2 separate regions of the Homo sapiens genome follow, and region 2 is linked to region 1. Evidence: fine-mapped expression QTL. A gene starts in region 1. The other region holds a variant in brackets. All regions are shown on one strand. Distances are between the middles of the regions. Region 1 holds the start of PTTG1 (PTTG1 regulator of sister chromatid separation, securin). Region 2 holds the start of MIR3142HG (MIR3142 host gene).

Region 1 (5,267 bases):
GTGATAAGCTTTTACAGACAGGAACAATGTCTTCTACATCTTTGTTCCTATTCCCCTCCTGACCTAAGATGATACCTTGCAAATAATTCCATCAACAAGTACACTTGTCCAAAGCAACCCAGATTCAGACAGTCTCATCATAGTTTTTGGTCATATATTATATTCATAACAAGTTACAGCTGAGCTGAATACTAAGAAACTAAAGGCCAAAAGCACTTTTCGCAATTGCAAAAGATACTACCTAGAGGATTGAAGGGAAAGAATTTTTCTATTTCTGGATAGGCATCATCTGAGGCAGGAACAGAGCTTTTTGCTTTAACAGTCTTCTCAGTCATCTAGAACAGCCAAAGAAAATATGGGTTAGTGACAGTGGAAGTCTTATTAGCTGATTAGTTTTTAAATTTGTCAATTTCATGCTGCCTTCTAAGAAGCCATAATCCTTAGTTTTCATAATTGCACCTAAATATACTTCAAATAATATGATTCAAATGTAATTCGAGTAGCATGACTCAAAAGTTAAAATCTGAAATTTAAGTACCAGCACCTGTCAGCATAAGTGATCAAGAATGCAGTTAATTCAGAGCTAATCAATGCAATTATTCAACCTAACAGAGGAGAAAATGGGCATGAATCACCCAGGATAGTAGCTAATCATCAAAGCCATTTTTGGCTTATAGGAGTGTGATTTTTTCCACAAGTGTTACCTTAAATTATTTGCTTGGTTAATATTAAAAACAAGTTTGTGTTCCTCAAATACACACACTGAGTAAGAGGCAGCAAGACACTGTCAAGGACTTTAGAATAAACACCATGGGCAATCTTCTAGTCTGGAGTTGACAGGTCTACTACAGTCTACTATAGAAGGGTGCTACAATGGAAGCCGGCATGTTCCTGCTTTATCTCACCTCACATATGCATGCCTAGAATTCCCTATGGGGTTCTCACACTTCGGTTCTGTGTCTCATTGTTTTTGCCATGTCTTTGCAATTCCTGTATTTAATATTTTTCTTTAAGTTAATTCACTTTTTAAAGAAGACATCTTTGTCCTAAGTTGCACTATATGTAATTCACTAGTTGTTTCCTAATGCAAATTAAACAAAACAGTTATTCAAATAAAGTGTTAATCCACATGCTAATGTCATCTTTCACAGCAAAGTCCTCTCATCTGGGATACACAGACCTGTAGCTTGTGACTCACACTCACACGAAGATCAACATGCTAGCAAATTGTCACCTAACAAGCTGCTGCTTGCCCTGGAAGGCTAAGAGAATGGCAGCACCTGTGCTATTAAAGCAGCAACAGAACCTCTTAAGGCACCCTCTCTCTCAGTATGTATCTGTAAGTGGATACCACCAACCAGTTTCTCTTAAGGCACCCTCTCTCTCAGTATGTATCTGTAAGTAGACACCACCAACCAGTTTCACGACACTAGTGAAGGACAGGTGAGGCAAAAATATGCATGAGGCAAAAATATGCATTAGCTGCATCTGAGATTTCCAATCTCAAGGTACCAAGAAGTCCACAAGGACAATCTGAGTCTCCTCCACTACTCTGCTTGCTAACCTCTATTTCCCTTCTACTCAGAGGGAAGAAAGCTACGTAGGATGATGCCAATAGTCATTTTAAGAGTCAAAAGTGCTTAAGTGTTTAAACAGTGTCTTTATAGCCAACACTTACCTTTTTGGCAGAAAAGCTTGGCTGTTTTTGTTTGAGGGGTCCCTTGGTCTTTACAGACTTTTCTGTAGCTCTGTTGACAGTTCCCAAAGCCTTTCTAGTAGCTTTAGGTAAGGCTGGTGGGGCATCGAACGTTTTGCCAAAACGTGGTGTTGAAACTTGAGATCTCCCATCTAAGGCTTTGATTGCTGAAGAAAAAGTCTTACCATAAGAATATTCCAGCAGCAAAATACCTGTACAACTTAAATACTGTGTATATAAACTTGACCTCTCACCCCCAAACCCACCCCCCACTTTTGGTAGTGGCATGGCTATGATAGGCCTAATAGCAGAGATTCAGTAACTTCCTTAAATCATCTCATTAAGATATTAAAAATGAAAAAGGACCAATAACAAACGACTCCAATTGCCCAAAAAGTACACTAAATGTCTCGTCCAGCTCCAGGCCACGTCCACAATACCAGTGTATCCGACTGCAGCCTTGTATACTTACAAGGTCCAGACCCCAGCTTCAGCCCATCCTTAGCAACCACACGGGTGCCTGGTTCTCCATTTTCCTTATCAACATAGATCAGAGTAGCCATTCTGGATTATTCTAAGAATGAGAAATACATATTAGATATTGGGGAAGGTGGGAGAAGCAAAGGTATAGCAACATACCAAACTTTCTATCCTAGGAGTGTCCACACAAAAAACAAGAGCTAAACAGCGGAACAGTCACGGGCGTGAGCCAACAAGTACTTAATCCAGCTCTCAAATCTTCCAGCCTGAGTCAGAGGCTCTAAGGTCCCGAGCAGCGCGCGGTTTGGGGCTGGCACTCATCAGACAGTTGCCGTTGGTCCAGTTAGCAGTCCGAGACCACGCTCAAACGGGCTCGGAGCCATCTAAGCCCCGGGCAGTCCCCCAACCCCAGCCCCAGCTTCAGCCCCAGCCGCAGCCGCAGCCCGCCTCCTTCCCCGCCGGAGCCGGCTCAACTAACCACCCGCGACCCTCCCATTCACTCACGCAGGTCTTAACAGCCGCATTCATCTGAGGCCGCGGTGAACGGACGCGGCGCACTCCTGGTTTAAACCACAACTCGCGGCCCAATTGGCTCTTCCGCCCAGGAGGCGGGGCCGTGGGCGTGGTCACCAAGTAGAACCAATGGAAAGGACCTAAGCAGCCAGGGCTCCGCCCCAAAAGCTCTTTCTTGCAAACTTTGTGGCACGTTTTCTGGGAAGAAAAAACTAGGATCGTGTAATATTAAAAAATAAATCGAGAGGCTTTTTTTTTTTGCTCTCCATATTATTAAGCTGCATGGACTGAGGTACTGACTCAATAACAATGGTTTATTGCTTTAAGATATTTTTATTTAGATGACCCTGTAAAAAGGATGGAAAATAAATAGAAATATTGAAGAAATAGGGGAAACAACCAATGTTGGGTCTAAAGAATACTAGCAGAGAAGAATTTAAAATTAAGAAGAAATGTAAGTACAGGTAGATCAAACAGCAGCGTTTGAGTCATTCTCTTATGCTTATGATTAAGAACGAACTGATCGTTCCCTAATCTTAGGACTATCCTCAATACTTCAGGCTAAGACACTGTTTCTATTATACCATCACGAATCTGTCTTAGGAACAAAATTATGATTCTAATGAATACATAATTTAGTCTTCCCTTAAAATTCTATCCTTTGATAGTGATTTATTTTAAACCTCTAACATCTCAATAATATATTAACCAAAGTTGCCTGGAAGGGCTTGGCCAGGGAGCAAGAGAATATCAGAGAGATAATAAAGATATAAAAAAGGAATTCCAATTTCCCAGATATGAAAAGAAATTTTGCTTGAAAAAGTTGACGACCTTTTCCTGTTTCTATAGTAAAATGGAATACATTGAACAACTACAAGATGAAGATATAAATTAAAACATAAGGCTGACCTGTGTCATTCAAACTCCGCTTCCCACAGTTCACCATATATGCATTTTAAGCTGCAGATCAGCTGAGAGAGAGGAGTTGATTCCATATTACTCTTTCACGAAAGGCTTGACACTATACCTGACATAGACATGGTTCTCAATATATGCCAGTTCATCATCTCTTTTTCCCTGGCATTTCAGGACCAATATTGATTGAATGATTCATTCATTCACAAATATTTATTGAATACCTATTAAATGCTGGACATTATACTAGGTTATAAGAAAAGAGCCTAACTTAAGGTGAAGAAAAGAGGAAAGACAGAAAAATATGCATACCTTTATTGTCCCTTCACTGTTCTTTTTCCTTTATCCCCATCCTTTATTTCCTCCTGTATCTCCTAAATTTTACATCATCATATTATATTATCAGCACTCAAAGTGTTAATTTTTAAGACTAAATCTGCACAACACCTATAGCTTCCAAGTGGGGATTCTCTATCTACAGAGGTTTTGAGGTGCAAGGTTTGTCTTAGGATGTCTTCTTTTTTTCACCAACAGAAAGCATTGTTTCTCCTAAGGTCATGCAGCAGCTGTAAACCATAACCACCCTCTCTGAATAACCACTGTTTTCTTACTAATGATGCCCTCAGACCAGCTTTGCTATTCCTATTACTGGAAATACTCAATTGCTAAACCACCCTCACTCATAACAGCACTTAGTCCCTAATCAGTTTCTCCCAATCCTTCTTTACAAACAGCAACCCATCCAGAACCAATCCCGGCTTTCCTAGACCTTCCTCAGAACCCTCCAGAGGGACCTCAAGTCTTAGAAAAGATTCAACTGTCTTGTCCTGCGCTTTCTGATTCCTCTTCGAGATGCGCTCTCCTGGTGGTTTTGGCTAATTAGGCCTTAACACTCCTAAGCAAATTTCAGGAATATTTTTAAGTGGAAAAAAACAAAGCCTGAGTGATTCATAGACTCTATTCACTTTCACGCTAGTCTCTGACACTGTTTCTTCATCTACTGCCCTGTAAAAGCAAAATTAATATTTATGTTCCTAAACTCCAGGTATTGCAAATTCTTAATACGAAAAAAATAGATTCTATTATGTTGGGCTATTTTATTGAGGCAGGAATGGTAGCTACTTTTACTTTTACATTCAAAAAGGATACACGTTATGGGGGGGAGGGGGAGAACAACCAGAATAGAAAGCACAAAGAAAAAAAAAAATCACAAGAAATTCTACCACGAAAATTAGTTTATTTTCCAGTGTTTTATTTCACATGTATACTTTTAAAGAAGGGATGGGATAGCATAGATACTGTTTCTCCAAAATGGAAATTGTCGTATTTTTTTCTAATGATAACATGCCTTATGTTCTCACAGCACCTGGTATTCTTTTCATAGCAACTTTTCACAGCTGCTAAATCTGAATAGTTGTTTCGGTGTCTTTCGCACTCTGATGTAAATCTGAGGGAAGACACTGTTCACCAAATCCCCAGCATGTTACACAGCCTGGCTACTAATTAGTGCCAAGTTTAACTGCTTTTTTTTTTTTTTTAAGCTGATACGTCACCAACTTCCCCATTCATTTCATAGTCCCCTGGTGAGGCTTAAGCTCTTGTCTGTTCTGGTCTTTTTTTTTTTTTTTTAACTTCCTAAAATTCTCCGATTCTAAAAGAAAGC
Region 2 (5,500 bases), 46 kb before region 1:
TTTGGCTAGAACAACTGGCTCTTTTCTTACTATTTTAATGTCTGAACTGATATGGGTGACATTTCCTCCAGCAGTGGGGGCAGCTGATAATGACGACTGTAGGCCAGATGAGTGCTGATTGCTACACACCAAGATTACCCCAAAATGGAGGCAGTGCATGACTCCCTCCAGTACCCCAAGAGACAAAGCTAGAGAAAATACTCAGCTCCGCATCCAAAACTCTGAAATTAACTTCCCCTGAGATGTGCAGAGTTTTATGCTCAAACTTCCAAAAAATATTAAAAATTCAAGATAGTCATTTTTCTCAGCATGAACTTGTGCACTCTTTTTTTTGTATATATACACCATGATTCAGCAATGAACTTGTGTTCTTATCTCCAACAAGGAATGTATCTAAATAGTCATATCTTTAAGGATATGAGTTTTTAGCGGAGTCAGGAACCTAGGAAAGAACTATACAAAGAGGTAGACAGCCCTCAGCCACCCCTTTGATGGTGTATCCATGCATTTGCATTGTCCTATTATCTTTTCTTAGAGAATCAAAAGACCTTTCTAAGATCTTGGAGAAAGAGTAACAAATAGTATGTAAGATATTATATCAGAGTCAGTCTGGAATGGGAAAAATCAGATGTGAGTCCCTACTGGAAAGTGGAGCCTTAAATCAATCACTTGATCTCTTTGAGTTTCAATTTCCTTAGCAGTCAAATGGATTTAATTCATTCATTTAACAAATATTTAATAAGTTCCCATTATGTGCTAATTCTACTGTTTCTACCAACCTTACAAATTTTATGAAAGAATTACATGAAATGACAAAAATGCTTTACAAAGTGTAAGTCATAAAAATAATTCATGTTATTGTTAAAAATAGAAGATTTTCTCTTGTTATTAAATAAGACTAAAGCCCAGAACAAAATAAGAAATGTTTGCCAGATTGTAGAACAACCAGAAGGAGGAATCCCCATTGCAGTTCAAAAATTGCCCAAAAGCTGGCTTTTAGGGACCACACCCAAGACTATAGATTGCTGACAGCCACAGAAAACAAATATTTACTACAAGTTGAGCCCAAAGGCCTCCACTGAGAACCTAAAACTACACAGAACTGAAGAAGTGCATGCGTCTGATTCCCGCAGGGCCTTTGGAGAAAGTGGGACTCTAGGAATTCAGAGATGAGAAGAGGGCCCAGGAATGCATCACCAGGAGCCATCCAGTCAGCTCCTCCCCGCATCCCAGGCCTGGCCTCACAGAATCCTGAAGATGAAACATCACCCACTCCACAAGCTAACAGTCCAACAACTCCAAACAACCGGCACGACCCCCAGAGTCCACCTTCTCTCTCTCAAAGAGCTTCTTGTATGGCTGCTTATCTGTTCCAAGGAGTACCATGCATAAGGACAGCAGTATGATTTTAAAAACAACAAATAAAGAGAAGCCAGTTCTGTCCAAAAACCCATTGTTAATAACGGGGATAAAGTGTCAGTAAAGCGCTACACTCAGAAGGGTTTGGGGCAAAATCAAAGCAGAACCAGGGCACACAAATAAAATAAAGGACACTGCACTTTGGGAGGCCGAAGCGGGCGGATCACCTGAGGTCAGGAGTTCAAGACCAGCCTGGCCAACGTGGCGAAACCCTGTCTCTACTAAAAATACAAAAATTAGCCAGGCATTGTGGCGCGCATCTGTAATCCCAGCTACTCTCGAGGCTGAGGCACAAGAATTGCTTGGACCCAGGAGGCGGAGGTTGCAGTGAGCCGAGATCTTACCACTGCCCTCCAGCCCGGGCGACAGGCCGGGAGCAAGACTCCATCTCAAAAAGAAAAAGAAAAAAAAGAAAGAAAGGACACTGAATGTGAAGGTCTCAAATGACAAGAAAATACCGTAATACAATAATTAAACCCATTGAGGCATCAAGAAAGAAAAGTGACACTGTTTGCCAATTAGTATACAAGTCAGGTTCAGTATGTAAAAGATTCTTTTTAAAAAAATAGAAAATTTAAAAAAAATTCTTACTATCCAAAGACAAGATTGAAATTGAGAATAGGAACACAATAAACAAAAAGTAATAGCCATAGTCTTCCAACCCTGAAACCTCCTAAGAGCACCATATTTACTGTCCAATATTTTCATGCTATTGTCACTGCAAGAAAGTTTATGACTTGCTAAATAGAGACCACAGTCTACAACTCCAGGTTTAAAGCATATTATTTTATCATCCATAGAGATTCTAAACCACTTCCTGACCCCACTCTATCCCCCCCCACCCTGAAAATAACAAAAGGTTAAAAATATGTCCCTTTTGAAAATGGAGCCACATCTTTACTAAAGCACTGGAAATATCTCCAAGTCACTGACATTTTTATATTTCTAGACCATGACAAAAGTCTCACCTACTTGATTCTAATGTCATTTCAATATGCCTTAAACATCTTGATTATATCTTTAATGTGCCATTTACTCTGCAATAATCCACTGTACAAAAGCCTGCTGCCTCTCAAACAGAAGATAAGTACATAATAAATCAGCTTGCAATGATTATTTTTTCCCAGCTCATACTCACAGCGAGCTCCTAAAATTTCATTTTATTTTATCATTTCCAATTCAGCCGCTGTTCTCCCCCTCCTCGTTGTGCTACTGTCTCCTGTCCATCCTGTCCACCCTTTGGCATGCCTTCCGGCCCAGGGTTTACCACTCCAATCGGCCCTGCTGGTGCCATCCAGGAAAGGAAGAGCGGTCAAGCGTCTTGGAGAAAGAGCATCTTTCTGGAGAGACTCTTATTTGCTGGGGTAGAGGAAGGCAGCTAAGGCCTATTTGCATATGCTTTTATTCCATTTCCACACCCTGCACGCTAACCCTCTCTGGAAAGTCCCTTCTAGATCCCTCCTCGGCACAGCGAGGGAGGAAGAGGCTGGGCCGGAATGGAAGGTTCCAGCCTGGCAGTGTCAGCTTCTCTCCGCGGAGCTGAGGGGGAAGCCTCCACCTTCCCCATCATGCGTGCAGGGTCTGGACCCCCGGGTCGGGGACCCTCTTGCAGCACGTGTCAGGAGCAGCCTGGTGCTTTGGCCTGCGCGCTCTAGAGCGTTCTGTGCAGGATGCGCCTGCTCCCCTGCAGCCTCCCCCGAGGAAGTTCTGGTCAGGCGCTGGGTCCCCAGGCTTCCTG[T/C]CTGTACTCTCCGCAGCCCCGCGGGGAAATCCCGAGAGCTTTATCGGCTGCCCAATGAGCCTGTTGGCTTTTCAAGTGCGCGCAGGCTGAGTTTCAGCCAAAACCTCAATTTAAACGTTAACCAAAAATAAATAAATAACATGTGTGCAGGCATTTAAAAAGAGAGACTGCCTTTGGGGAGAAGATCAGGCAGAAAGCTCCCTTGTTTCATTGCTGCAGATACACGAGGCCTGGATTTGCTCACCCTTTGAACAAAGGGATTCTTTGAACTGTAAACTGACCTGGCAGGCGGAACACTGAGAAATCTTCCTGAGCACCTTTCTCTGGAAATGTGAACATTCAAGGCAGTCTTGTGTGTCAGCTAAAGAGAACAGTCATAGCTAAATTTTAATGGGCACCTACTAGGCACCAGGCACTCTGCTAAATGTATCACGTGCATCATCTTCCCTAATCCCACAGCAATCATCCATAGCAGGTAGCCCGAATTATTATCTCCATTTTGTGATCCCCTTTTACTCATAAGGGAATTTTATCTTTGGTGAGGTTAGGGGGACTTGCCTAAGGTCACACAATTAGTAAGTGTTTCCATGGGTGCCCTTAGCTGCTCCTTTTCCCAAACTGGAAAGAACGTACAAGGCCTTTGGAATGTGCAACTGCAAATTCAAATTCCCAGTCGAGAAAATATAGCTTCCTTTCCTTGGTCACGTGCTCATGGACCGAAAAAGACCAGCTCAAAGGATTTTGCTTCCAGGCAGATGTAGTCACTTTCCTGACCTCCCCTGAAGGTTTTTGTTGCTTATCTTGCTGAGCTCCCAAAAGGTTTGTTTGAACGTCTACTATAGATAACGTTTTTAAAAGCAAATATTTATTGAGCAATTGTTATACACCAGACACTGTTCATAAAAACATGTTCTTATTTAATACTCCTAAGAACCCTAAAAAGCAGATACTATTCTTAGATTAGAAATGAGGAAACCGAGGTTCCAAGAGAGTCGAAACTTGCCAGAGTTCACATAGCTAGAAAATATCAGAGCCAGGATTTGAATTGAGGTTTCCTGTCCCCAAATCTCTGAACCTGGTACACTGCATTACTCTGCCTCTCAAGGGGTCCACATCAAAACTATTTCCTTGTGTGAGATTCTCTCCCATTGGAAGGGAGTTCCTTGGGGGTTTGGGGTGGACCCAGGTATCTGAGTGGGCTCTGGGCATACCTTCAAGCACTCCAGCATCTGCTGAAACCGGGTGGGTTGATGGAAGGGAGGAAGCATAAGGGTGACCAGAAGAGTTAAGGGCACTCTTAACACATCCCATGTTGTATTAAGGAGTAAGCAACCTATTTGTGAAGTTTTTATAAAAGGTTAAAAGCTGCCTAATTCAGTTAGCGACAATTCTGTTTAAAGAAATCCAAAATTATTTGGATCCATGAACTGGGGGCTAGACTCAAATGGAATAAACAGAAGGAACTCAACCCTTGCTGGTTTCTGCTAACAAGTACATTATCCCGTTCCAGTCAGTTAACTCGACTTCGGCATTCCTAAGGGCTCCTTTGTGACACCTGGGGGTCATTAGTATAGTTTTCCAGAAACAGGAAAGTGGATGCTTGGAGCCAGAATTTAAGTAGCTATATGCTATCAGCTGCAAGCACCTCCATCTGCTGCCTTTTGCCTCGGGAGGAATAAACTCTAAAATCTTGAGGCAGGTTTTCAGGGATGATATATGAATTCAGCCTCATCCTTTTACAACCAAAATACGTGTCATTTTTGTTTCATTTTGTTGGGGGGTAGGGTGGAGGAGAGCTTAAACATCATTTATATAACTTATATTACATGCCAGGGAAAGTGCTATGCACTTTACCACCATTATCTCACTTAATGCTGATAAGATGGGTATTCGTCTCTATTTCACAGACAAAAATCCAGAAGACAGACACTCACAGAAATTAAATAAATTCCTAGAGTTAAAAGTCAGTAAAGAAGCCCTGGCACGGTGGCTCACGCCTGTAATCCCAGCACTTTGGGAGGCCGAGGCAGGCGGATCACCTGAGGTCAGGAGTTTGAGACCAGCCTGGCCAATATGGTGAAATCTCGTCTCTACTAAAATTATAAAAATTAGCCGGGTGTGGTGGTGGGTGCCTGTAATCCCAGCTACTCAGGAGGCTGAGGCAGGAGAATCGCTTGAACCTGGGAGGGGGAGGTTGCAGTGAGCCGAGACAGCACCACTGTACTCCAGCCTGGGTGACCACAGCGAGACTCCATCTCAAAAAAAAAAAGATGCTGGAAAGAGAGGAATTGTGTGGAAGGAATGTGAATCTTCTTTGCTGACAAGAGCACTGTCTTATCTGGT

Evidence for each region.
Region 2: its variant is fine-mapped to the expression of PTTG1 in whole blood (TOPMed, PIP 0.96).

The regions. Positions count from the first base shown.
Region 1 is chr5:160,419,305-160,424,571 of GRCh38, reverse strand. It overlaps PTTG1 (PTTG1 regulator of sister chromatid separation, securin), which reads right to left and starts at 2,717. Exons shown (of 6, transcript NM_004219.4): 1 at 2,681-2,717; 2 at 2,169-2,270; 3 at 1,679-1,863; 4 at 242-335. The coding sequence starts at 2,259. RefSeq lists enhancers at 1,912-2,468, 5,080-5,149, 5,160-5,267 and silencers at 2,563-2,722, 2,823-2,882.
Region 2 is chr5:160,465,498-160,470,997 of GRCh38, reverse strand. MIR3142HG (MIR3142 host gene) reads right to left here and starts at 2,747. Exons shown (of 2, transcript NR_132748.1): 1 at 2,558-2,747. RefSeq lists enhancers at 2,643-2,802, 2,833-3,062, 2,530-3,166, 3,167-3,803. The variant T/C (reference allele first, on the strand shown) is at 3,158.